Linked DNA regions of Homo sapiens. The protein of the gene in region 2 interacts with the protein of the main gene of each other region in a biochemical or structural test. Each region holds a gene or a part of one and is shown on either strand. Other genes may lie near its edges. The genes, in order: DLGAP1, SHANK1, WWTR1 and CACNA1D.

Region 1 (7,026 bases), on a different chromosome or scaffold from region 2:
TTTTTTTTTTATTATACTTTAAGTTTTAGGGTACATGTGCACCTTATGCAGGTTAGTTACATACGTATACATGTGCCATGCTGGTGCGCTGCACCCACTAACTCGTCATCTAGCATTAGGTATATCTCCCAATGCTATCCCTCCCCCCTCCCCCCACCCCACCACAGTCCCCAGAGTATGATATTCCCCTTCCTGTGTCCATGTGATCTCAATGTTCAATTCCCACCTATGAGTGAGAATATGCGGTGTTTGGTTTTTTGTTCTTGCGATAGTTTACTGAGAATGATGATTTCCAATTTCATCCATGCCAATCATCAAGAAAGCAGCTGCTACCCCTTGAAAAGTCACTCTACTAGCTACTGGGCTCAAGCCTATGAGACATGCAAAAAACATCAGCTAATTCACTACTTAAAAGAGCTTAAAATCTCAGAATATTCACATAAAATGTTAAAAATGTGAATATTATAATAAAGTAAGTAATCCAGATAAATGCAACTGGAATTCAGAGAAGAGTTTACCCTCAGCTGAGTAGTCATAAAATGTGTGCTGTGAGAGGTGAGATTTGGCTGGGCCTTGAAGGATACAAAGGACATTAAAACAATTATTTTAAAAGAAATCCTTCCTCCTGGTAAAACAGTCAACTAGATAGAAGGACAGAAAGGGAAAGAAAACCCCTGAGGCTCCTTGTCCTAGTCTCTAGGAGCAGCCACTGTTAACAATTCATCAAGTAGATGGAGCTTGAGTACATGCAAATAAACAAAGAGGAAAAATAGCTGGAACAGCAGAGCCCTGACAAACAGGAGTGGTCATGGTGGAGGCTGATGCAAGAGATTATTAGGAAATGAGGGTAAGCAATGATGAGAACCAATTGTGTCTTCACACACTCGTCCCACTGACACATCTGAAGGCCAACCACGTTCTAGGCATACTCGGGTCTGGAGTAGGCAGGGGAATACTAGCGAATGGGATTGTTGCTCTTTTGGGGGGCTCCAGGACAAAGTTTGAGGAGTTTCATGATGACCTCAAGAGCATTTTAGAAAAGTAAATTTTGATGTGAGTTTAATCAGATCCTAGAGATTAGACATCCCATTAAGAAGCTGCTATGTATTCCAGGCATAAAATGATGAAGTTGTGAAGTCAAGCAGCAGCAGCAGCAGCAGCAGCAGAACTCATACAGTACAACCACCTTGCTCTCTAACGTAATGAGTAAGAAATTAAGACTAAGAGAAGATGGGTGTTTTGCCTAAATTTAGAATGTAATTAAAGGCTTTATAAAATAACTATGGATATAAAAGTCTTGAAGAACTAAATAATAATATCTTTGTCATTTCAGAATTGGAAAACATTTCTCAAACATATCTTATTGGTACCATAAAGAGAATTTAAAATGCAACTATTTTAAATTTAAACATAATCTTTTCATCCAGAGACATCATAAAAATGAGAAGACAAGCCACCAACTGAGTGGAGATAACTGAAATGCCTATTACAGAACAAAACTCTGGTATCCAGAATATATAAACAGCTCTTACAAATCAATAAGTTTAACAAAAAGAAGTAGGAGAGTGGGGAACATGTATGAATAAGGAATCCACAGCAACTAGAATATTAATAAAGAGAGGGAATAAATCATCAACATTACCAGGAGACATGGAAGAACAAATTAAAACTACAATGAGATATCATTTCATATCCATAAGATTGGCCAAAAATAAAATGTATCACCAAGTGTTGACAAGGATATAAAACAAAAGGTGTTCTTATAGATTGCTGTTGGGATCATAAATAGGTACAACCATTTTTGGTAATTTGCATTATCTGCTAGATGTGAAGATACGACTATTACCCTACTGCAATCCCCCTCCACCCTAATCAGAGTCCCCTTTGTTAGCACAAGGTGATGTACACGTGAATGTTCACATCAGCCTTATTTGGAAACATCTTAAATGTCCATCAACAAAGATTGATACCTTTATCATGATACAGTTCTACAATGGAATACCATATATCAGTAAAAATGAATAAATCAGATCTACATGTCATCAAAATACTGAACAATTACAGTAAGGTAAAGAAGACTACAAGAGCATTATTACTACTTATAAATAGTCTAAAAAAGCAAAACAAGACTATATTGCTTAGGTACACATACATACATAGCAAAGAATAAGGAAATGCATGCATAAGAACAATAAACACAAAACTCAGTGGGCTGAGTCCCTCTGAGGGAAGACATGAAGAGTACACTGAAGTCTCAACAGTGTATGCAATGATTTATTTCACCATCTGGGTGGTGGACACAAAGGGGTTTATAATATTATTTAATTTTTGGTGTTCCTGAAATATTTCACAGGAATTTTTAATGAATAATAAAGAATTAAAAAGAATGTGTGACACAGGTACAGAGTAAAAGAGAAAGGAAAGAGTCAAATATTGCTTGAAAATTTTTCAAAATATTTACTCCCATTTCTACTTCCCTGGACTTGATTCCCAATAATGTAAGCCTCACTAAAACAGCCTCTTCATGCTTCTCTCTGTCCCAGTCTGGTGTTAGACCCATCTACTCCTATCAGTCCAAGAGGCCACTTCTTCACGTCACTGCCTATTCAGAATCTGTCAGTGGTTCCTATCAAATCTAAACATTCTTGTATAGCCATTAATGACCCTCTCAATCAAATTCATCTTCAGGTCTAATTAAAGTGGAGGAACTGGAGGAGAGAACCATCTTCTGGACCAGGAACATGCCAAGTTCATTTGCACCTCCACGTCTATGCAAATGTTTTCTCTATCTGAAAGTCGGTCCTTCTTCCTATGTAAGTCTTACAAATCCATGAAAATCTAGCTTCAGATCTTCCCTATTGGAAGCATTCCAAAATGATCTCATTCTCTGTTGAGCCCCTACTCCTACAGAAAAGCCCAAAATAAGTACATTTGAGCACCAGTTTCATTCTGTAACCCATTATTACTAATTATTTCCTACATTTTAATCGTATTCTTTGTATTACATTTCAAGCTACCCAAGGAGTTTAACTAGGTCTTGCTCTTCTATATTCTTCACAGTAATAAGTACCCAGGAGATGTTACAAATATTTTTTGTTTGCCCATACTTGGAAAGGCTGGATATATACCTACCAAAATACCTGACATCTATCATCAAGATCCCTTAGGATTCATATCATCAAAGCAGAGTGTTTTCAATTATCTATAAAGCACATGCAAATCTAGAGGAATTATTATGCACCATAGTTTATAAAAACATGGTGCATGTTCGCATTCTGTCTCACCATTCCTCACAGGCCATTCGAAGCTGAATGGTAGATGTGGTATCTACAGCAGGGTGCCACATGGAAGGTTAACATATCCCCAAGGCTGGCCCACCTCACCACATCATTCCAGTAGTTCAGAAGCAGATAGTAGAACAGAATACACTACATGTCTGGCCAGAAACAAAACTAGTATAAAAAATTCATGAAAATACCTAGAAGGCTGTGATTCCACATCAGTAAAGATGTTAGATTCCAGTCTCCCCTGTGAGAGCCAACCCACATCTACGTACCTACATAGAGATCAGCCTCAAGCAAGAAAGGCAGTTGTAGCTGCTTCTCTGCCTCCCACAACACTTTCCACCTCATCCCTGTGATCTGATTTATTCTTTGAGTCCTTGGTGAACTTTTGCTTTCTTCCACTTACAAACCACATAGGGGCCACTGTCTCTGGTCTCCCTTGAGCTTCTGGTCTCCTAGAGGGAGACAGGCATATACGCAGAAAATGAAAAACAAAACTAGGTTATAATTACGTATCAGACTCAATGGAGACACAAAAAGGAGAACTCAATGTAAGAGGTGAGGGGTAGGAAAGAAGTTTATGCTAAGCCTTAAAGGGTCAGAATAAAGTAAGACAATTAATCTACTAATATGTTAATTTTGAATAAGAAGGAGGAGGAAGAAGAGGGAACAGGAGTTTGTTTTTTCTTTGCTTCCTTTTTAAAATCCTTATTGTATTTCAAAACCTTACCTCTGCTTGCCAGCAGAGTGCATGTTGCCTAGTTGGGAAATGTAGCACTGCGTAGCCCATCACCTTATATTCAGGCTGGGATCAGCTCAGTGTTTACCAGGTATTAACAGAGTAAACTTAGGACCAAAGAACACAGCATCTGACATTGCAAAGAAGTGCCATGCAAAAGCTGTGTAACACCATCCTCAGAGTTATGGCCCTTATGCACTAAGAATACAGATGTGCATTCACTTGTTTATTCATTCACTCAACCAATGTTTACCCACCATTTATTAAGTGCCAGGTGCTGTGCTAGGCATCAGTGATATTTGGTGAACATTCTATATTTAGTTCTTGATCTCACGGAATGCACAGTTCAGTGGGGAAAGCAATCTGACACTCACAAGTCAACACATCATTATTGACCGTAAAAGGACCATGAAAAAGGAATAAAGTGCTAAAACAGCATTCAGCTGGAGACCTTCCCTGATTAAATGACTTTTCAGCTGAAGTCCAGGAAAGAGGGAACAATGTAAGAAACAGCATTCCAAGGAGAGGGGGAAAGATTTCTTAGCCTGCTCCATAGAAGCTCTAGAATCAAGTGAGTCTTATCTGAACTACCTAGGCAAGGATTCACAGGAAAGACTTCCAAATGCATTACCACTTCAAGATTCCCCTGCTGACCCTCCCAAACTCTAAACGGAAAGCACATCCTAATTTGAAAGGATGAAAAGGTGACTTTGCCTTCTGGGTTAATGTCTACACGAAAATAGCTTTGAAGAGAGTGAATGTGCCTTGTCTTTTTGCTAGTATAGTATGATGAATCATATCAAAGAATGGTTGTTTGCAAAGTCTGAGACAAGATCAAAATGCCATTTTCCTCTGAAACTGCAGCATGTGTTTTGTAAAGAAATCTTAGTGATATCTAGCAGGGAAATTTGCAGTCCAGAAATAGACTCCACACTGATTTCTACTGAAATTGAAACCAAGAAAGAAGGGGTATCCAGGGAAAGGGTGTAATCATGAGGTTAGAATGAGGGTTAGTGCCAGTCCTCCTATCACATACTCAGATGTTCTCCAGTAGTAGAATTAAAACAGCAAGTTACTCTAGCAGATGTTTTCAAATTAGCTAAAACCGTGTCACCAGAGTAAAGCAGCAAAGCTGGAAATGTGCCCAGAGAGACCTTCCCACAAGCCGCCTGAGGGAGCCATTTAAATGTCTCTGAGCCCTCCTAGTGCAGAGATTCAGATGCAAGGCTAGGGAGATAAGCAAGTCACAGCACAATGTCTCCTCATCCAAATGCTTATCCATGGCTTCAGTAAGACCACAACTCTGCTGAATATTAAGAAAACCTGGCAAGATTGAGCAGTTCCAAATCACACACTTTGTGGTTTGCTGTTGTGCTGTTGCTTACAAATCTGATAAGAAAACATTGAGAGAAGACAGAGAAATTGTCAATGGCAACAGATGAGCAAACCATGATAAGTGAATATGAAAATGAACAGTTTGGTTGCTGGCAAATCCTAGGGAGAGGGAGGAAGGTGGTTTGCATCTTCATAACATATTCAGAACACTGATATCTAGTTCACAATTAGATATCCAGTGGGACAATCACATCCCAGCTATGCTGGTTGTCTATCCAAGAAAAAGTCCAAGGATCTGAGCCAAATATCTGTGGATATAGATCCACAGGGCTTCCTTTTGCATGAGCTGGTTTTCCTAAGTGGGATGTTACTTGCTGCCCAGTAATCATTAACTCCTATAGGAGGGAGAAAATAATAAAGCAACCAGGAAAAATCTTAAGTCAATAATGGATGAAGATAACCCTGTTTCTCACTTATACAACAGCTATCTGTCCCCTACCATTTACTAGAGAGAAGGATGGGAAATGGTTGGGTCAACACGGCTCCTGTGCAATACCAACCTCTGTACAATCAGACTAAAGAACAGAAGACCTCAAAGGGATGTCATTCACCTTTTTAACTGCCTTATAATCACACCTCATTTTTTTCTTGTTCTCAATCACATGTTTTGCTCTGTAGGTGTGTGTTTGGCAGGGTTACAGGGAAAGGTGTAGCAAATATACAGTATACAGCATTGTATAAGCTAAATAGTTACATCTTAGAAGCAAAAGAACTGGTACCTGGTATCTCATACAATCGGTTATCTGTGGGTGTCTAATAGATTAAAATGAATGTCAGAAGACTATTTCTAAATCCTCCTCTGTGGTAATGCAATGTTTTAGATCTTCCTAGGAACAGCATCTTTGGCAATTCCTGATAGACCACACAACTAGAGAAAGTCACCTTCATCGGGCAGTAACAAGAATCGAGCTACAAATTCTCATGCTTCGGAAAAAAGAAAGAAAAAACATCTTTTGAGGGACACTGTAGTTATTCCTCTCTGAAAATAGAGAACTAGTAGCACTTAGGATCTTAGGAAATAAAACAGCTCAAGATATGGGATGTTTTTGAACATTCAGGTGTTTCAACAACAACATAAAGATTTTTCTACAATGCTAGCAAAGTATCTTTTTGTGATAGTGTTTCTTTAAAATAAAAAAAATGTACAAAAGACCAACATACCACAGACATAGGCATAGATTATAACTATGAGAAGTGAGGATTGGGGAAACGTGTTTAGGTTTTTCAAGAGTCTTTTTAGCCTTCTTATTTCAATGGTGTTCCTGTACCAGGGGAAATATAATTACCAATGGAAAAAGAGAAAATAAACAAAATAACCTAAAATTGTATCATTTTCTTAATTTAAGAAAAGAGAGGTAAGTGTGATTTCTATAGAGATGAAATCTACATAAAAGTAGATTTTAATTGGATGCTTCCTGAGAGGAAACCAATTTCCTCTCCTCTGATAAACAGTGGAGCAATTTGTGGGAATGGTCATGAAGGTAACATGAATTTGAGCTGATCATAGAAATTTCACTATAGAAATACACATTAGATAACATTTTACTATTATCTCTGAATTTGAAATATTACGAGATCAGAATCAAAACACTGAATTCTTTGTTTCTG
Region 2 (7,026 bases):
TCCAAGGAAGAGGGCATTTGGGGGCTCCCTCTGCCTGCCCGCAGCTGCCCCAACCAGCCCCCTCTCCTGCCTCCTGGCTTCCGGCTCTGCCCCCTCCCACGGTCCTGCGCGCACCGCCTGATTCAGCTTCCTGAGGCTGAGCTGGGACTGTGTCATCCCTCCGCTCACGAGCCTTCCGCGACTCCCAGCTTCCTCCTGGGTCAGGTCCAACTCCTCTGCCCGCCGTTGCCAGCCTCTCCCCCACTTCCTCGGGACACGCCTGGCTGGCCTTCGCCTCCTTCTCACCCTCCTCTAGCCAGGTGGGCTTCCTGACCCCGGAATGTCCCCCGCCCCTTCCTCATCCTCCCTCCAGAGTGACCTCTCTGTCCCCCTCAAGTCCCTGCCACCCCCCCCATCCTCTTCCTGTTCAGCTTCCCTCCACCTCACCCTGTCATTCTGTCTGTCCCCAGGGGCTGGGGCCCATGTTTCTTTGGGGTACCCTCTGCCTGGGGCCCCTGTCCTGGAGCAGACATCCAGCTAACATGTGGTGCACCGGGGGTGGAGTCGGGACAGTAGCTCCCAAGGCCTTGCTTTACCCCAAGGTGACACTAGGGACTTGGATGAGGGCCTACAGAGGAAGGCAGCTGGGCTGGCCTCGGGGGAAGCCGCCGATCTGGAGAGGGGATTTGACGGGGCTGGGGACTGTGGAGCCAGGGCTGCCTCCCCTACCTGGGCCGGCCTCGGGGCTGCCTCTTGGCGTCCTCAGGGTGCCTCCCTCGGGATGGAGAGCGGGCCCTGGCACCCCGGGGGCTGCTGGCACTTCGGAGGGTCCCGCTGCTGAGCTTGGTGGTGGGGGCCGAGGGCTGCGACTGGCCCTGGGACCCTGAGGTAGGGCCAGGGGCCCCAGAGGACGCGGCCCCCGGGGCGGAGAACACCATCCAGTCGGGCAGCGCCATGCTGGTGTCACTGTTGGCCCGCAGCAGCGCCGGGGGCACCGTCAGCCCTGTGCCTGGGGGCCCCCGTCGCCGGGCCGCGTACTTGGGGGACTCCTGGAAGGGCACTGAGAGGGCACAGTGGCGGCGGGGGGCAGATGTTAGGGGAGAAAAGGCAAGCAGGGGGCCATGCGGGGGCAAGAGATGGTGGGAGAGAGGCATGAGGGAGAAAGACAGAGATGAGAAAGGGAGGGGGGCCTGGAATTGCTCCCCCACCACCATCCAGACATTTTTGGTCCTCTAGGGTTTTCTCCATCCTATCCTGGCCCCCAAGTCAGGTCCCCCAACTCCCCCATCCCACCATGAAACCTCAACCGCCCCAGGTTCTCTGTGCAGTCCGAGCTCCCTGTCACTCACCCACATCCTGTTCTCGGTGGTTTCGGATCAGCTCCCCCAGCTCAAAATTCCCAGCAATCACTGCCACCTGGAGGGAGGGGGTAGAGGCAGGTCGGCCAGGGGGGCCCAGGCAGCAGAGAGAGGGCAGGGAACGTGGCGAGGTCCCTGGCCCGACCCAAACCTTCCACTCCGACAATGCCGCCCTCTGTCTTCTTCCAGCTCCCCCTCCACGGCCTGTCTCCTTGCTTTCCTCATTGTCCCCTTCCTTATCCACTGGGTGTCACTGTCACCCTTTCCTTAGCCCTGGAAACTCCAGCACATCCCCTGCAGCCCCAGACCTGGAAGGGGGTCTGTCCGTTGTTGTTCTTCACATCCTTGTCGGCACCTCGATACAGGAGGATCCTGGCACAGGTCTCCTGCGGGTAATGGCCAGTGGCACAGGACAAAGAGAGAGAGAAAAAATTAAGATCACCATGAGTGGATGCAGGTTCTGTGCTAAGAGCCTCAGGAATAAATACTCCACCCTAAACCCGCACCACTGAGGACAGCAGCCACCTGCCAGGTACGGACCAGGAGCACTTTAGTTTAAACGTGGCCGGCCCAAACGGAGATGCACCATGCATGCGAACTACACACTGGATTTCAAGGATATGCCATATGAAAACAAGAAAGAATTTAAATGTCTATAGCCAGGCGTGGTGGCTCAAGCCTGTAATCCTAAGACTGTGGGAGGCCAAGGCAGGAGTTCCAGACCAGCCTGGGTGACATAGTGAGACGCCCCCCGTCTCTACAAAAAAATAAACAGAAATTAGCCAGGCAGGTGGTGGGTGCCTGGAGTCCCGAATACTTGGGAGGCTGAGGTGGGAGGATCGCTTGAGCTCAGGAGTTGGAGGCTGCAGTGAGCTGAGATCAAGCCTGAGTGACAGAGCAGGGACCTGTCTCCCCCCCAGAAAAAAAAAATGTCAGGTGTGGTGACACACACCTGTAATCCCAGCACTTTGGAAGGCTGAGGTGAGTGGATCACTTGAGGCCAGGTATTTGAGCCCAGCCTGGCCAACATGGTGAAACCCCGTCTCTATCAGAAAATACAAAAATTAGCCAGGCGTGGTGGTGGGCGTGTGTAATCCCAGCTACTCAGGAGGCTGAGGTGGGAGAATCACTTGAACCCAGGAGGTGGAGGTTGCAGTGAGCCGAGATCCTGCCACTGCACTCCAGCCTGGGTGACAGAGTGAGACTCTGTCTCAAAAAAAAATAATAATTTCTGTATTGATTCTATGTTGAAATGATAATGTTTTAGATACACTGTTATAAGTAAAATATGTTGTTAAAATAAATGTCACCTAATTATTTTCCCCTTCTCTTTAACATGGCCACTAGGATATTTGAGGGCATTTAGGGTATGTGCTCATGCTATGTTCCACTGGATGTTGGGGCCGGATAATCCTTTGGTGATTCATTGGTTTGTGGAGGGTGTTCTGAGCCCTGTGGGATGTTGAGTAGCATCCCCGGTCTCTACCACTAGATGCCAGTAGCACTCCCCTCCCCAGTCATGACAACCAAAAATGTCTCTAGACATTGCCAAGTGTCCCCTGGGAGACAGAAGCTCCCAGGTTGAGAACCACAGGTCTAGACCTTACGGAGGCTTACCATGTTACGTGCCAGGCGCTTGGCACTTTAGAGGCAGAAGCTCATTGAATTGCCCAACAATTCCAGGACATGGAAATTGTCTCTATTTTACAGAGGAGGAAACTAAGGCTTTCAAAAGAGCCCAAGGTGGGCCAGGGGTGGTGGCTCACTCCTGTAATCCCAGCACTTTGGGAAGCCGAGGAGGGAGGATCGCTTGAGCCCAGGAGTTTGAGACCAGCCTGGGCAACATGGCGAAACCCCGTCTGTACAGAAAATTTTAAAAAATTAGCCTGGCTTGGTGGCACACGCCTGTAGTCCCAACTACTTGTGGGGCTGAGGTGAGAGGATCACTTGAGCCCAAGAGGTCGAGGCTGCAAAGATCCTTGTTCATGCCACTGCACTCCAGTCTGGGTGACAAAGTGAGACCCTGTCTCAAAAAAAAGGGGGGGTTGGGGGGGCTCAAGGTCACACAGCTGGTGATTATCAGCCTTGGATTCGAACCCAGATCTCTCTGACTCCAAAGTCTTCTATCTTAATCACACTTTCTGCCAGGCCCAGAAGGAAGGGGACACACATTGTGGAGGAAAGGGTGGGGGCAGGACTGGGCCAGTGGGGACAGGGATGCCTTCTACATTCAGATCAATTTCTCACCGGTGTCAATCACATGGCACCCATCATCACTTTTTGGGCTAAGCACAAAGTCCATGCCACGGCCTAGGAGGGTTAGGGTTAGCTGAGCTAACCTGAGCTGCCTGCCCTGCCACTCCCCACCCTGACCCTCACCAACTTCATCTTCTACCACCTGCCCTTGCTCCCAGGCTGCAGCCACACTGGCCACCTCCTTCCTCTGACAGCACACTAATGCCCCAGGACCTTTGCACGGCTGCTCCCTCTGCTTGGAATCCTTTCCCGCTAGATCTCAGCATAGCTTGCTTCCTCACTTCGTTCAGGCTTTTGCACAAATGCCGCCTCTTCAGAGAGGTCTTCTCTGGCCATCCTGTCTAAAAAAAAAACCCTTGTCCTCTTCCTTGCTTTATTTTTATTTATTTATTTATTTTTAAAATTTTTTTGAGATGGAGTTTCGCTCTTGTCACCCAGGCTGGAGTGCAGTGACACGATCTCGGCTCACTGCAACCTCTGCCTCCCAGGTTCAAGCGATTCTCCTGCCTCAGCCTCCCAAGTAGCTGAGATTACAGGCACCCACCACCATGTCTGGCTAATTTTTGTATTTTTAGTAGAGACAGGGTTTCCCCATGTTGTCCAGGCTGGTCTCGAACTCCCAACCTCAGGTGATCCGCCTGCCTTGGCTTCCCAAAGTGCTGGGATAACAGGCATGAGCCACCGTGCTCAACCCTTTGCTTTATTTTTTAGTACCACACTGATGTATGTGCCAGGCACTCTAAGCCAATGTTAACTCATTTTCTTCGTAACCCCGTCTCACTGAAATTCCATTTCCTGTTATTTGTCTCAGTAGTGTCTCTTCTCCTCTACACCATAAGTTGTACAGGGGCATGATTTTGCCTGTGGCACCCACCACCTGGATTAATGCTGGACCCACAGGGACTATTCGGTAGAAGGAGTGTCCTCTCCCTTTTATCTTGGCCTGGCCAAACCCAACTTGGCCTCCAGCTCAACTCTACCCCAGCGCCCTCTGATGCTAATTTAACCACCATTTCCCAAGCACCTCCTTGATCTTACCCCTTCCACATGACAAATCCACCAAGGGGTTTGTATGGGCCTATGTTACAGGACAGGTTCAGAGAGGGCAGATGCTACGCCCAGGGCCACACAACCAGTTAGTGGAGCAGTTAGGATTCCAACAACCTGGCCTTCTTCTTCCTTTTTTTTTTTTTTTGAGACAGAGTCTCGCTCTGTTGCCAGGCTGGAGTGCAGTGGCGTGATCTCGGCTCACTGCAGCCTCCACCTTTTGGGCTCAAGCAATCCTCCTGTGCACCTGGCCTTCTGATCCTATGGTTCACCTATCTCCTATGAATGGACGACTCTGACTGCCAAAGTCACACATCGGGCAGCAGAGTTAGCCCAGTGTGTGTTCTGGGTGTGTTTGGGAGTGTGTGTGTGCATGTGAGTCTGTGTATGCCCGTGCTGCTGGCCAACTAGACTGTTAACTCCTGCCATGTGTACTTTTGCGTGTTTTTCTTTTCTTTTCTTTTCTTTTCTTTTCTTTTCTTTTCTTTTCTTTTCTTTTCTTTTCTTTTCTTTTCTTTTCTTTTCTTTTCTTTTGAGATGGAGTCTCACTCTGTTACCCAGGCTGGAGTGCAATGGCGCGATCTCAGCTCACTACAACCTCTGCTTCCTGAGTTCAGGCAATTCTCTGCCTCAGCCTCCCAAGTAGCTGGGATTACAGGTGCCCGCCACCATGCCTGGCTAATTTTTGTCTTTTTAGTAGAGACAGGGTTTCACCATCTTGGCCAGACTTGTCTTGAACTCCTGACCTCGTGATCCGCCTGCTTCAGCCTCCCAAAGTGCTGGGATTACAGGTGTGAGGCACCGCGCCTGGCTTTTTGCATGTTTTCACAGCCCCAACACCCACACTGGGGGCACAGGGCCAGAGCACAGCCCCTAAGGTCACCTGCTCCTCATCCTACTCTTACAAAGCTGAGAAGGTGTGCAAGTCAGAGTTGATGGCTCCCTCCCCTGGGCACCAAGAGAAACTCGCATTTAACGGCATCCTAGCACTTATCTCATGTCGTAGCCATGATTTGCTTACACGTCTGCCTCCTCACCAGACTGTGAACTCCCACCCCCCCCAACCCCGCCCTCGCCCTCCCCAGGCCAGATGCTGTGTCTGATTCATCTCACATCCCCAAGGCCTGGTGCTGTGCACATAGTAGGTGCTCAAGGAACGTGCATGGAAAGGATGAGGATGGAGGATGTGGGGTTGAGTCAGTCAAAATTCATTTGTTCGAGTCATTCATTCATTGGTTGAGTCATTCAGTCTGTTGAAACAAGCAAACACCTGTTGAATGCTCTGAGCCAGGCACTGTGCACAGTCTTGGTGGAAATCCAAGAGGGCTGACCCCATCATTCATTCACTCATTTTCATTCATTCATTCACTCACTCAACAAAGATGGAACTAGGCCTGCTGTTTGCTGGGGTCCTGGAACAGAGCAAGTAATCAGACTCAACCCCCACCCTTGAGGTGCTCACAGCCTAGACACGGATCTGACATTCACCACCAAATGCTAGACGGGCATATCAGGAGGCCAAGGCGGCAGAGGCTGAGGAAAAACTGTCAGACTCAGCCCTGGCTCTTGGAAAGCTTAAAGCCTGGGAGGAAGACAAGGGGGGAAATGGAGGAATCAAGTTCGTATGTGTTATGCATCGGTTTGTTAAGCCCATGGCAAAGGCAAGCAAACCTATTAACCCACTTGATCCTTTTGCATGGTAGATATTTATTTATTTATTTTTTTGAGACGGAGTCTCGCTCTATCACCCAGGCTGGAGTGCAGTGGCATGATCTTGGCTCACTGCAAACTCCGCCTCCCGGGTTCACGCCATTCTCCTGTCTCAGCCTCCCGAGTAGCTGGGACTACAGGCGCCCGCCACCACGCCTGGCTAACTTTTTTTTGCATTTTTAGTAGAGACGGGATTTCAGCGTGTTAGCCAGGATGGTCTCAATCTCCTGACCTAGTGATCCGCCCGCCTCGGCCTCCCAAAGTGCTGGAATTACAGGCGTGAGCCACTGCGCCCGGCCTGCATGGTAGATATTAATTATTGACCCATTTCACAGCTGAGAAAGGAGATCAAGGAGGGGAAAATGACTTGTGCAACTGTCCCACTAAGAAAACTCTGCCTGCTGTCTAATTCTAATTTTTTTTTTTAAGGCAGGGTCTCACTCTGTCACCCAGGCTGGAGTGCAGTGGCATGATCATAGCTCACTGCAGCCTCCACCTCCCAGGCTCAAGCAATCCTTCTGCCTCAGCTGCCCGAGCAGCTGGGACTTCAGGTGCATGCCACTGTGCCCAGCTAATTTTTGTATTTTTTCATAGAGACCAGGTTTTCCCACGTTGCCCAGGCTGGTCTCGAACTCCTGGGCTCAAGCCATCCTCCTGCCTTAGCCTCCCAAAGTGT
Region 3 (7,026 bases), on a different chromosome or scaffold from region 2:
AGACTGTGTCTCAAAAAGAGAAGAAAAAGAAAAAAAAAGACTTGAATTGATACTATTGTTCAACAACAAGGGCACACTGGGACATTTTGGAAAATGGATTATTTCTGGGACATGTAAGCAAATAAAACGCTTGACACAAGCTAGAATGGAAGCTCTGTGAGGGAAGGGGCTGGGGTCTGTTGTTCACAGCTGTACTTTTAATGCCTAGAGCATTTGTAAAACAAATATATGAACGAATGAACTTAAATAGCCAAGCTTATATGGAGGGATTTATAGATTCACAAAATATTAGACTACGTGACCTCTGTTAACCCAGTCAACTCTGAAACCTAATGCTATGAAATGCTTTTCTAAAAGTTAAATAGTCCCCTGTTCTGAAGCAAAGGCTATGAAATAGCCTACATTTATGCTTCATGATCTGCTCCAATACGACACTCTCCTAGCTCGCTAAATAGCTATTCTTTGCATGACAAAAAAAAAAAGGGGGGGGCCTCAGAACCTTCCCCAGGCCAGTGCTGCTCACAGCCAGGTGTGTCCCCCTCCAGGAGCCCTCTGTCAGGATGGCTGTGCGAGGTCAGCCAGCTGGCCCGCCGCGCCTGGTGGCTGTCAAGCCTGGCAGAAATCCCACAGACCTGCCAAAAGAATTCCGAGGCCTCCCTCTTTTCTCGTCCCTGTTGCCCCGGCGACCCGAGGCCAGGCTTAGTCAGCATTTTTGTTTGACAAACTGCATTCTCCTGTCCCCCAACCCCCAAATTAAAAAAAAAAAAAAAAAGAAAGAAAAGGTTGAGGGTAAAAGCAGGGCTGAATTTGCTTTGGGAATAATGATTTCTCTACAAGGCAGCCCCCGTGAAGGGACAAGGGGGAGCCAAGGCTTTGCCACTTACTCGTCTTCCAGGTCCTGGTCCTCGAGGTTAAAATCTTCCAGAAAGATGGCCCCAAACCGTTATATTTAAATGAATAACACACATGAAAAGAAATACTCTCTTCAGGTAAAGCCATATGCCTGTTTTCATGTCAAGGAATTGTTCTTTTAGATAAACAGGCATTGAGAAGCCTGTTTCTCAATGTCTGACCTGTGACTACGATTTCCCACTTCATTTGGTAAAGTTGCAATTGTGCCTTTTAGGATACTGAGCAAATATTGCGTTGAATTTTTCAGTTGTAACAACAGAATACTCTGTAGTCATTGTGGGTGTGTGTGGCTCATGACATTTAAAAATTTATGTACGGCCTGTTGTAGAAAGGATTCTAGGCGCTTTGGAATGGGTACATACAAAGTCACAGCACAACTTCATGGCTGACACAGAATAAAAAAATGACTTCCCAATATATTAAGAAGAGGCAACAAAGCAGTATTAAAGTATGCTACCACTTTTGTGTTTTAAAAAACAAAGTAGACACATTGATACACATGATACATACAAAAAGACTAGAAAGAAATCATCAGCATATTTACAGCCACTCTTTCTAGGTAAGAGTATAGGTGATTATAATTTCCTTCTTTGTTGTTTAGTATTTTATACATTCCGTACCATAAACATACGTTTTGTCTTTTTGTGTGTAGCAATTCGTTTTCTTTTATTATTCTTTTTGTTTACATACAGTAAAATTCACTCTTTGTGGTATACATGTCTGAGTTTTGACAAATGTAGAGCTGTGAAATAGCCACCACAACCAAGACACGGAACTGTGCCATCTGCCCCACAATTCCTCAGTGCTGCCCCTTTGGAGTCTACTCTTTCTGTACTGTCAACCCTGGCAAGTGCTCATCTCTTCTCTGTCCCCATAGTTTTGCTTTTCCAGAACGTCACATAAATGGAATCATACAGGATGTAGTTTTGGGGGGAAGTCTGGTTTCTTGCACTTAGCAAAAACACTTTTTTAAATGCTAATCACTAAAGTAACTCAGTAAATTATATTTTTAATTTTTTTTTTTTGAGACAGAGTCTCACTCTGTTGCCCAGGCTGGAGTGCAGTGGCTCGATCTCAGCTCACTGCAACCTCCACCTCCCAGGTCCAAGAGATTCTCCTGCCTCAGCCTCCTGAGTAGCTGAGACTACCGGCACCCGCCATTATGTCTGGCTAATTTTTGTATTTTTACTAGAGACAGGGTTTCACCATGTCGGCCAGGCTGGTCTCGAACTCCTGACCTCAAGTGATCTGCCCGCCTTGGCTTCCCGAAGTGCTGGGATTACACGCGTCAGCCACCACGCTTAGTCAAAAATTAAAATTTTTTTCTACTTAAAAAAACTCAACAAATCAAATTTTAATTTCCTTAAAAAAATGAAGAGAAAGCAAAACTTCAATAAGAATTGCTTTTTTTTTCTAGAGTTGCCATTTCTTTGGTGAACCTGAAGTAGCCTCACAGCCTTTGGGAAATTCAGTAAAAATAAAAGAAAACTCTATCACAGACAAAAGACTTCCTTTCACAGAAATGCACTCTTTATGTCTTCCATGTTAGATTCCTGGTACCCCTCCACTTGAAGTGTCTGCCGCATTCCAAGATAATTCATCAATTATCAGATACAAGTAGCTCAGCTCTGTTGCTACACCAGCCAATGCTAGATTGGAGGGACTGCATTTAAGGAAATTCTCCTGCTTCAGAAGATTCCTTATCAGCAGAGATACCAAACCTTACTGGCTCTTTTGATCCTAATTCTGTAGCCAGTAACCTGAGGGGTCACTGGAAAGAAAAAGGAGTATCTGATGCTCACTTTCACAGAACTCTGCTCAGGTGCATCTGGTCTCAGTTCCAGTAATGAAAGTCAAAGATGGTAGCCACTGGGCCCCTGTGAAGCAGGGAATGGTTTTAATTTACTCTTCTGGTCTTTAACTTGGATTAAAGTTAATTATTTTTCCTTTTCTGCAAAAATACAAGTTATCTGAAGGCAGTCACATCCCATTTACCTGTCTGTTATTTTCTACTAAATAAATATTGATTGAATGAATGAAGAGATAAAGGAATGAAGGAAGGAAAAAAAATATGAGCTTCCATACTGAAATAATGAAGGCTCACTTTAGATTTGTAATCAAAGTTTCCTCAGATCCATTTTGTTAATGTTCTCGCATGATTTCAATGCCAATGAGTTAATAGGTGACCCTTTGGCATTGTGGTATACATCAAATCATGCAACAAGGACCAAGGAGTTGTTTTTTTCATGGCACAACATCATCAAACTATATGCCTAGTGGAACAACGGCATAGCAGAAGGAACAGGAAGAAAAATGAAACAATATTTATATAGCATATTCTCCACAGGGATCTTTCAGATTCGTCGTATCATTCAAGAATGATAAAACTATAGACAGCGTGATAATTTATTAGTAATTAGGGGATAAATTCATCTACTTATTAAATTTTGCCAACCTCCCTTTCTACTACAGAAAGAGAGCATAGCCTGGGGCCTTGCTCCCAGACAGGCTCAGTTGGTAGAAGGGCAGGTAGGTCTAGGCCTACCTGCAGGGCCTGGGCCCCAAGAAGACAGGCTGTACAATTAAGGCCGCCTACAAGCAAGAGGAGAGCCAGTGTAATTACAAACTGTCCACTGAGCAAGGGATATTCAGGCAGTTGTTGACTACCCAGGACATAGGGGTAGGACAGAGAGAACAAACAGAAGTGTACAGATAATCTTTAAATTTCACCAGAACCACCACTTCCCCCATCTCTCCAAATTCCTACCAGATGCTGGAAGGCAACTAAACAAGTGAGCCAAAGATCACTTTTAATTCCAGTCCATTTCCCTGCTGCTGCCATGGCTTAGGTTCAAAAAGTGAAGCAGAAAATCACCAAAAGAGTTCAAAAAATCCACCAAGATGAAACACAGAGCCCACACCTGAATACTGAATAATCAGGTGTCCTGGCAAATGCCCCAGAAAACTATTATAGAACACTCCAATGCCATTTATTATATGGTCTTAAATCATATCTTTGACAATCAGGAGCATGCTGCTTCTGCATGGGGAAAAAATCTGCCATGATTAAAAAGTCTATTTAGACCTTTTCCTGTACTCCCTAACAAAAATAAAAAGGCATCAGAACACCAGAACCAACCACTCCACCATTCCATCTCCTCCTAACTACACACACACACACACACACACACACACACACACACACACACACAGAGTCAAGGCTGAACTACATGAGTCCCTGTGAGCAAATCTGGACAATCTTTTCTCCTGCTTCATATACAATGCAACAATGCAATTGCTCACTATGATGCAGCACAACGCCCCACGTTCCACAGCCTCCAAGGATCAGCATTTAAGGAACTTGGTTGGCATTTCTGTAATATGAACCATCAGTACTACATCCTGGTTCAAAGGCACCTACAGCTGGAATAAAGGAAACAATTTGGGGCACTTTTCCCACCCCTTTTCAGAAATACTTTCTGTGGGAAAGAAGGAGGAGAAGCAAGAGAAAGAGAAACACACCCGCAAAAACAGAGAAGCAAGTCATTCTTTGCAGAATGGTCACAACTTTGTGTAAAGAAAAAACTCACTAAAGCTCATTTAAGTATAAAACTGAGAATGTATAAAATGCTGTTGGGATACTGTTTAATTTACCTTACATTATAAAACAGAAAAATTATTCCAAATAAAATTATTATTCAAAGACAGAAAACAATTAACAATACAATTACTTCCCATCAAGAAACATGACACTATATATCTAAAATCAGTATAAACAACCGTTAGCCTGAAATAACCGTGAAAGTTCAAACATAAATCCTCAGGGTAAAAGACACAACTGTAGTTACCTAATTATTAAGTTGTATTCCTCAAATTTGGAGGAAAGTTCAGCTGAGCAACAAAGCACAATTTATATTCATTTTCCTTATTTTCAAAGACTATATCTGAGAAATGATTTTAATTTACCATGCATTTTAAACCTCACACAATATAGATTTCTTATATCCTGGAATGTATTTGATGAGAAATACATTATTCATTCATGGAAGTCAATGTGTATTTTTGAAAGTATCAAATGTAGCTTTAAAAAAACAGCATTTACCCTAACATGCTCGGTCCTTTCCTCCAAGAAAGTTCTCTGGAATGTTAAAACTACTTATTTCTCTAATTTCTCTAAAGTAGCAAAAGGAAGTTATTCATGTATCTTGCTTCATGTGAGTCACAAAACAAAGTCTGAAAAGTTAAAACAATAAACTGAAGCTTTTCTCCCCAAAAATGTAGCCAGAAAAAAAGCATGAGACCTGAAAACATGGGTTATATTAGTTTAGCAACACAGAAGAAAGAATTCTGCTCTTCCATAGACCAAGCCACTGAAACAGGGAGAGCACTGTGGGTTCTTTTAGGAATTCTCTTGTATTCGTTTTTGAAGTACAGCACTGAGCCTGACCCACAGAGGGCACACGGCAACACACTCCTGACTGACGGAATGAAAACTGAATGAATGGAGTATGGTACAAAAGTGCCTGATTGATGCCCAGGCAGTTTTGCAGAGCACTCTGTTGGAGTCCATATACAAACCACTTTCCCTTCTCATTCTCCCTTCAGCTTCCCTCTTTTTCATGCTCTGTGGTGGACCAAGATCCTTTGTCATTTCTTCTGAGGAACATCCACTCCACTATCTGCTTGAATCTCGGGGGGTTCTCTGTGACTACTTTGACCAAGAGAGTGTGGCAAAAGCGACTCCACGACCGTTTCCAGAGCTAGGCCCCAAGAAATTGGCAACTTCTACTTCCTGTCTCTTAGAATGCTTTTTCTTGAAAACCCAGCTGCTATGGAATGAGTACCACTACTCTGAGATCGCCACACCATAGATCCCAGGCTTTTGTTCCAGCTTAGCCCAGTCTTCCAGCAATCCTCACCATCATGCCACCCACTTAGGTAAAGCCATTGTGAACTATCCAGACCAACCCACCTACCAGTTGAATACCACTAAATGACCTCAGTCAATGCCATGTAGAGCAGAAGAATATCCCAGGTGAGCCCCTTCTAAATTCTGACCCACAAAATTGTGCGATATAATGAAATGGCTATTTAAGCAACTACATTTTGGGATAATTTGTTACACAACAACAGACTCTTGTCTCTCTACTTTCTCCTTTCTCTCCTTCTAAAGACTAGCAGTGGAAGCCAAAGGCAGCCATGCTAATACAGCTCGTCCTTGTACCCTTAAGCTTCGTTCTGAAAAGGCAGGCAGAACACTGAGAGAAGAAACTGGATTTTAATCAAGAGGCTTGGAGTAGGGCTTTGAGCCCTATTGTCTCTTCTTCTCTAGAAGAATTACCCTGAAGGTAAGCAGCTACCTACCCATCAGCTTTGGCACCAAGGCCAGGGAGCCTCCACCAGACACCATGGAAAGCCATACCTGCCTCATGAGCTCCTCTTGGCGCATTCGAATCCTTTCTCTCTCCATCTGGATTCTCTGAAGCCGCAGTTTCTGCTGCTGCTGCTGCTGAGTGGTCAGCGCATTGGGCATACTCATGAGCCCTGCGGGTGGGTTCTGAGTGGGGTGGTTCTGCTGGCTCAGGGTACTGGGGGCCATCTGCTGCTGGTGTTGGTGATTCATCACTGCAAGAGGGAAGAACATACAGATTAATGACCAGGGCCCACAATACCTTATCAAAAATAGACCATCAGAATGTTTTCTGCTTTGGAGTATAGATTCCTGAGATTCCTTCCAAAGTACTTTCCTGTTAACCATTACTGTTTAAGTAATTATTACCTTAATTCAATTCACGGAGGCTCGAATACTGGCCCCAATCCTGACTCATCTAGCCTCGGCTTTTGTTTCTGTTAAAATCTCATTTCACACCTCCCTGTCTAGAGTACATTTTAAGCCTTACATAGAACATAGTGGTCTAAAGCAAATTCCACAAAGGTTATCACAAGTTATGAGATAATTTCACCAGATCATTTGTGTGTGTGTGTGTGTGTGCATGTGTATACTTTCTCAGTTAATTTGTGTGTTTATGGCAGAGGTAAGGAGGGCATGTGATCTTTGGTACACAAACCAGTGAATTGACAAACAACATGTAACACAAAGCACCTAGATCAGGA
Region 4 (7,030 bases), on a different chromosome or scaffold from region 2:
GAGACAGGAAGGTATATACAATGAAACCCCTTATATACAACTTCTGTTACTCGCATTCCAGACTGCTACAGCTTTGTGTCACTTCAGAAAGCAAATCCTTTTAAAAAACAGATGGTAAAAGAGAAAATGAGAAAGACTTCCCCCAAAAAAAGGATACTTCCATTCCACTATACTAATGCAGGCTCTTCGGATGGGGTTATTGAGTGATAAACAGAAAAGGGCGCGGGCAGGTCGGCTGTTGGACGAGTTACCCTGTTTTTTGCTCTTGGCGTATTGCTGACGTTTTCTTTGGGAGAGAGATCCTACAGGTGGGGGTGCAGAGGTGCTCATAGTTTGGGCAGCCTTGGCCTGTCTAGCAGCATCGATTGCAGCTTGCCAAGACAGGACAGTTTGCTTGGAGCTATTCGGCTGAGAAGTTGGTCCTTCACCAGAAAGAGGAAGTCTGGTGCCTCTTGCATAGTTTGCCTCTGGGGAGAAGGAGAAAAACAAAGATTTTTTTTTTTAAATGAGGATCCAGTGGGTAGGAGAAAAAAATCAAAGGTTGTCTCCCATCAATAACAGGGGAATCATTCACTCCTATGTTTCCATTTTGAATCTCATGTGCTATTTTTCACAAGCTGGGCTTTAGTCAGCTGGAGAGTCAAGAAAAGTCCACGAGCTCTGGTCTCAGTGTCAATCACACAGGATCACCGCTGCATCACACCCAGTGGGGTTAGTACTCCTTCACATCATGTCTTCACAAAGGGTCTTTTAGTGCATTTCTTCTGACAAAACTGAGGTCATTCCCACATTTACTCCGCATCTCTGATTTGTAAAACCCATCTATCTCTAATGAGTAACAGATACATACAACAGCTTTTCTCTAACATAACTACCACCATCACCAAGGGGAAAAAAAAAGGCAGTACCAATAATTCAATAGTCTTAATCATTTTCAGAGTGTTACTCCAACATCTTTCCACAGCCACAAATGCATTTTTTTCAGTACCGAAAAAAAATCTTCCATAGGCACCCAGGCAATACCAAAAACCCCATAACAAATATCTAGATTATGCACTGACACTTCCTGCAAATGAAAATTCATGATGCTTGGGACTCATTTCCTCCACAGGCTTCCGAAAACAGAAAACATCTTTAGGGCTTTTTTGCATTTTAAATTGCAGCAGCATCAGCCAAGCCAGCATCCAGAGAGACAGACAAGGCAGTCAGCCTGCACCCCTACACCTAGGATAGACTGACTGGATTATGCCAGGGGCCTCCAGGCCTAAGAGGGAATTATCTCCGTGTAGGTTGGTATCCAGGTGCACACAAGGCAGAAACTCAAGGAGGCTCCCTATGCGAAGCCCCCGCCAGCTTTGGGTCAGGCCATCTCCCAGGCAGATCTCCCAGGCACCTGCCGCCTTCCGCCACAGTCTCCTCACTGAAGCAGAAGTGAGAGAGGTGACAGCAAGGTAGAGAGATGGGCGTTTGCAAAGCCAATTATTGCTAAGTAAAGAGTCAAAGCAAGCACGGGTCTGAAAGCCTGAGAAGAGGGCAAAGCGGGCGAGCGGCGGGCAATCGGAGCGGGGACGAGTCGAGTCATGTCAAGCTTCTCCCTAGGGGAGCGCTCACCCGGAAAGGCTTCCAGCCGACAGGGGTTGGGGGGCACTGGCGGTCTCCAAAGGGGAGGGCTGGCCAGGAGCTGCTCCATCCTCCCTCGACCCAGCCCCGGCCGGCGTGGAAGCTGCACGTGGTGCCCGGGCCAGAGCTGGGGAGGGGAGCCCCACAGCGGCAGCGGCTCCCCGGGCATTGCTAGGTTACCGACGTGTGCACAGCCGGCGACGGGAGCGGGAACGCACGCTCCACCCGAACCCCTTTCCCCGATACCGAGGCCGGGCCTCCCCCGCGAGGGGATGGGTGTGCTTCACCCACCGGCGCGGAGGGCGAAACCGGGCAATCCTAGAATTTTCCGGATGCCACCAGGGACCTTCTTCCTAGTCAACGAGGGGGCGGGGGAGGAGTGGAAGGCGAGAAGAGGCTGGCAAGGGGGCTCCGGCTGAAGACTTGCGGCCCTCCTGCCATCGCTCGGGGGCGTTGAAGGAAAGTTGAGCCCGAGGACACTGAACCCGAATCACCCCGACTCGCCGCCCCTCCGGCTGCACCGCGCTCCACACACTCCACGGCCGCCCCCACCCCACAAATGCAGAATTAACTCTGACATTCAGGGCCTGGAGGGGAGCGCGGAGTGGCTGTCACGCATGTCCCCTCTCTGTGTAGACGACACCGAGCTGGCAGCACCCTCTCCAACCCCCTCAACCCATCCAGCGCCGCGGGGAAGGGGGAGGGGGCTGGAGGACCATGACAGGATCGGATTTGGCAGCGGGTGCCCGGGCTCTGGCTGCTCACCGTTCGCGTGGTCCGCTTGCTGCTGCCGTTGATGCTGCATTTTTTTCATCATCATCATCATCATCATCCACGAACATTTATTGAGCGACTACTGTGTGCAGGGCACTGTGCTGGGCGTTGAGGCGGGGGCGGAATGGGGAAGGGGATCACCAAGAGGTAGGAGCCGCGGTCCCTGCCCTTATTCTCGCTTCAGCAGGGGGGTGGGGAGGGACGGGGACAAATAACAGAAAATAAGGATAATTGATTTAAAAAAAAAACCGCTCGCCACCCAAGCTCTCTCTTTTTCAAAAATGGAGCAAAATAAACTTTTTAAAAAAATAAAATCCAATGTATATATTATCTTAATAATATATACATGTAATTTTTTGCTGCAAAGGAGAACTGGCTTGTCCCCTCCTCTAGCGGAGAGACGCCGCGGTGATGCCGGCCCGGCCGCCGGGGCCGCTCGGCGCTCCCCCCATGCCCGCCCGTCTGCCCGCCCGCCGCGGTGCCCGGTGCCCGCCGCCGCCGCCCGCGCCGCCGCTGGCTCGGGACCGCGGGCAGCCGGAGCTCACATCCGGGGACGGAGGCGCTCGCCCGCCCGCTCGCTCCGCGCCCGCCGCGCCGCGCCGCACGCCGGCTTCGCCCTGGCGACGCTGCGCGCCCGCCGCCGTCCCCCGCCCTCCGCCCGCCCCGAGCCGCCCACGGCCCGCGCCGCGCCGCGCCCCGGCGGGTCTGCAGCCCGGCGCGCGGTTCTGCCCGGCACCACTTGCGCGCTCGGGGTGGCCGTCGCGTGGGACTCGGGGTGCCGCCACCCCAGCCTGGCCCGGCTGACCTGCGGGCTCCAAAGGGTTAAGCGCGCTCCAGCGGCGGGCTGCCCGGTTAACCCCCTCCGCGCCGCACGGTGCGCTCTCCCCCCGGGACCCGGAGGAGGCAGGCGGCGCCAGTGTCTCCCGCGGCGCTGGGGTGCGGATGAACCGCTCCTCCCCGCGCATTTCTGGGCTGGGGGACAGCTCGGGCTCCCGCGCCGGCCCCGACTCCGCGCCGGCCTCCTCTGCGCACACCTGGAGGAGGCCCCGCCCCCTGGGAGCTCAGGTGCTAGCGGGCGGTAGCTGCTGCGGTCTCCGAGCTCATCCTCGTCAAGGCTCGGCCGGGCTCCCTGGCTGCTCCGGAGCGGGGCAGGCGCCCCCTGCTTTTCTCCGGCCCTTTCTGGAATCGGGGGGGTTGGGGTAGCCCGGGTCTGTAGAGAGCACTCACTACCCCAGGTAACTGCCTGCAGCTGGAACCGCGAATCCAGGGCGCCCCCCATCTTCTCCCCTGCCCTGCGCCTGGCCTGGCGTCGCGGAAGGCAACGGGGATGGGGGGCAATATCTCCCCCCACCCCACCCCGCCCCCACGTGTGTTTGGAGGCAGGTACAGGGAAGTCAAAGCCAAGGTCTTTCAAACCGCTCGTGTTGTTCAAGGAAATAGACGGTGCTGCTGAAACTGTTGCCTCCAGTCTGGGAGCTGAAGGGAGTAGTTTATTTTTTGATACCTTCGCTGGCTTGGATTTAGGGTGGGGGAGATTTGCAAACGGCAGCTCCTGTCTAAAGGGGAAAATACTTTATCTAGTGGATGACTGATATTTTTCATTTAGCTTTGTGCTGCCTGTTAGGAGAAGGGCGTCTGCTTTGTTACTTCACAGGATTCGATTTATTTGCTTTTGTTCCTATCTGCATGTTCCTACGGCGTTTTAGAACGTTTCAGAACAGTGACTTTAAAGCGAAAATAAAGTAAAAGCTCAGCGTGAATTAAGAAAAATAAGTGTTTATGGGAAGGTGCTCCTTACCCAAAGAGAACACACTAGTCATCCTCAATTGTTGGGGGGCACCTGGGCAGAGAGACTGGGGACCAGACAGAAGACTCTCCAGAGGCCTTCCTGAGGGGGTGTCTGGTCCGTGAGGATGAAAACAACCAGGCTCTTGTCCTTTTTTGTGCTTTGTTTTTGGAGACTGGAGAGGCGAGAAATCGCCCTACGGTCTAGTAACAATATAAAGCTGGCCTGGGCCACCTCTCCTATGGCTGCTTCTGATCCAAAATCTGAAGGGAATAGAAGACGGTTCCCTCCAAAGAAACTAGCCCATCCAAGGAGCATGTATGAAATTCACAAGTACACATGTCACTTTCAGAACTCCTGGTCTAAAGCCTTGCCTCTTGAGGCCTTTTCTACAAAATTCCCTGAGCAAGTTTGTTTTATGATACCTTTGCTGGCTCAGATTTGGAATGGGGGAGATTTGCAAACAGCAGCTCCTGTCTAGAGGGAAAAATACTGTATCTAGTGGATGACTGAGCCGAACCATATTTGCTCATTGTTCAGTTCAGTGCAGCCAGCATTCATAAGGCACCGGTTAAGAATAAGGGTCTGGTCTAGATGTCAGGACAAATCTATGGCACAGTTCCTTCCTCAAGGACAACCTAATGACAGAAGAAAAGTTTGTATACTTTTTTTTTTTTTGAGACGGAGTCTTGCTCACTCTGTTGTCCAGGCTGGAATGCAGTGATGCAGTTTCAGCTCACTGTAACCTCTGCCTGTTGAGTTCAAGAGAGATTCTCCTGCCTCAGCCTCCTGAATAGGTGGGACTACAGGCGCGCGCCACCACCCTCAGGTAATTTTTGTATTTTTAGTAGAGACGGGGTTTCACCGTGTTGGCCAGGCTGGTCTCAAACTCCTGACCTCAGGTGATACACCTGCCTCGGCCTCCCAAAGTGCTGGGATTACAGCCGTGAGCCACCGCGCGCCCGGCCGTGTATACTTCTTTCATACCATGCAAACATAGCAGCTATAACAAGTATGAAAAAGCGCTATACAAGCATCAGACAGATTAATTGTAACTGAGGGAACTGAGATGTTTTCACAGAAGAGAGGGCATTTGAACTGATTCTTAAAAACTGACCGGGAGAAAGAGGGATGAATAGGTGGCATACAGGGAATTCTAGGGCAGTGAAGCTATTCTTTATGATACTGCCATGATGGACGTAGGACATTATGCGTTTGTCAAAAACCCGTTGGACTGTACACCACAAAGCATAAACCCTAATGCAAACTATAGACTTTTGTTAATAGTAGTACCACAATATTGGTTCATCAATTATAACACTGGGGTGTACCAGTGTTATAACTGTGTATATAGTGTAGCTCACTAATGCAAGATGTTAATAGGAGAAACTGTTGGGGGAGAGAATATATGGGAATTCTGTCCTTGCTGCAAAATTTTTCTGTAAACCTAAAACTGCTCTTAAAAAAAATAAAGTCTATTAAAAACAGGTGACTACTTTTACAGGGCATAAATGATGTATGAGGAATGAGCTTTGGGGGTAAGAGCAAAGGCACAGGGGAGACTGAAGTGCAAGGTGGGTGTGTTTAAAAATGAGCAGGAGCACAGTGTGGCTGAGGCAAAGACCCCCTGGGCTAGAGGAGGAGGAGGCTGGAAAGGCCAACCCAAATCTGTGGAGGAAGGCTGGCTGGCTAAGAAGACCAGATTCAATTTCTTGGCAGTGAGAGCCAGTGAAGTTGTTTTAGCTCAAAAGTGACATGATTAAATTGTGGTTTCGGTCTCCAGGTTTTGTGCGTTAGATCTTAACAAGTTTATGGTATTGCAGGAGGGTTTGGGGTTTTTTTTTTAAATAATTATTTTTAGAAACAGGGTCTCACTATGTTGCCCAGATTGGAGTGCAGTGGTGTGATCATAGTTCACTGTAAGCTGCAAGCCCTGGCTTCAAGCAGTTCTGCCTCAGCCTCCCAGCGTGCTGGGATTACGGGCATGAGCCACTGCTCAGCCTTGAATTGGAGTTTTTGACATTCCATCCCAGTTTCTGAATGAGTCTCATCTTGGCGATGTCTCCAGCAAGCATTTTTTTTTTTTGAGGGCCTTGATTCAGCACAGCTCTAGATGCGTTGGCCCATTGGGTAATTTAAATATTTATATTCCCATGATAATGCAAACTACTGAATAAATAAATAATAAGATCTTTTAAAGGCTTCCTGTGTGCCAGGTTCTAGGGTAGGCACTTTATATGTACTAACTCATTTAATTCTCGTAACAAGCCTACGAGGTACTATAAAACCCTCATTTTGGCCAGGCTCAGTGGCTCATGCCTATAATCCCAGCACTTTGGAAGGCCAAGGCGGGCTTGAGTCCATGAATTTGAGACCAGCCTGGCCAACATGGTGAAACCCCATCTCTACTAAAATTACAAAAATTAGCTGGGGATGGTGGCGTGCGCCTTAAGTCCCAGCTACGTGGGTGGCTGAGGCAGAAGAATCACTTCAACCTGGGAGGTGGAGGTTGCAGTGAGCAGAGATTGTGCCACTGCACTCCAGCTTGGGCAACGGAGCAAAACTCTAAAAAAAAAAAAAAACAAAACTCATTTTACAGACAACAAAACCAAGACACTGAGGAGTTAAGTAGCTCGCCCAAAACCACACACAATTACTTAGTAGCTGAGCCAACAAGACATGAGGAAAGGCTAAAACAAAAGATTTCAGCTCTAAATCAGCTACATGTGCTACAACCCAATTATGTTGCTAACACACTATTGTGGGGTCTTAATCTCCATGACCTTATTTATAAAGCACTCCCACTTGAACGCACTGAGCTGGCATGCCAGACATGATTACCTGCGTGCA

Evidence for each region.
Region 1: the proteins of SHANK1 (region 2) and DLGAP1 are reported together in a solved structure, tested with the Homo sapiens proteins (one study listed by BioGRID).
Region 3: the proteins of SHANK1 (region 2) and WWTR1 interact in a test that uses a peptide from one of them, tested with the Homo sapiens proteins (2 studies listed by IntAct, with this or other methods).
Region 4: the proteins of SHANK1 (region 2) and CACNA1D interact in a biophysical measurement, tested with the Homo sapiens proteins (2 studies listed by IntAct, with this or other methods).

What each region holds. Positions count from the first base shown.
Region 1 is NC_000018.10:4,445,300-4,452,325, forward strand, and holds part of DLGAP1 (disks large-associated protein 1), read right to left. Parts: intron 1-7,026. UniProt on the Homo sapiens protein: Part of the postsynaptic scaffold in neuronal cells.
Region 2 is NC_000019.10:50,702,792-50,709,817, forward strand, and holds part of SHANK1 (SH3 and multiple ankyrin repeat domains protein 1), read right to left. Parts: intron 1,724-7,026; coding exon 1,646-1,723; intron 1,396-1,645; coding exon 1,329-1,395; intron 1,040-1,328; coding exon 709-1,039; intron 1-708. UniProt on the Homo sapiens protein: Seems to be an adapter protein in the postsynaptic density (PSD) of excitatory synapses that interconnects receptors of the postsynaptic membrane including NMDA-type and metabotropic glutamate receptors via complexes with GKAP/PSD-95 and Homer, respectively, and the actin-based cytoskeleton.
Region 3 is NC_000003.12:149,536,001-149,543,026, forward strand, and holds part of WWTR1 (WW domain-containing transcription regulator protein 1), read right to left. Parts: intron 6,538-7,026; coding exon 6,335-6,537; intron 1-6,334. UniProt on the Homo sapiens protein: Transcriptional coactivator which acts as a downstream regulatory target in the Hippo signaling pathway that plays a pivotal role in organ size control and tumor suppression by restricting proliferation and promoting apoptosis.
Region 4 is NC_000003.12:53,490,589-53,497,618, reverse strand, and holds the start of CACNA1D (voltage-dependent L-type calcium channel subunit alpha-1D), read right to left. Parts: upstream 3,009-7,030; 5' UTR 2,453-3,008; coding exon 2,386-2,452; intron 1,805-2,385; exon of another isoform or gene 1,790-1,804; coding exon of another isoform or gene 1,612-1,789; intron 468-1,611; coding exon 158-467; intron 1-157. UniProt on the Homo sapiens protein: Voltage-sensitive calcium channels (VSCC) mediate the entry of calcium ions into excitable cells and are also involved in a variety of calcium-dependent processes, including muscle contraction, hormone or neurotransmitter release, gene expression, cell motility, cell division and cell death.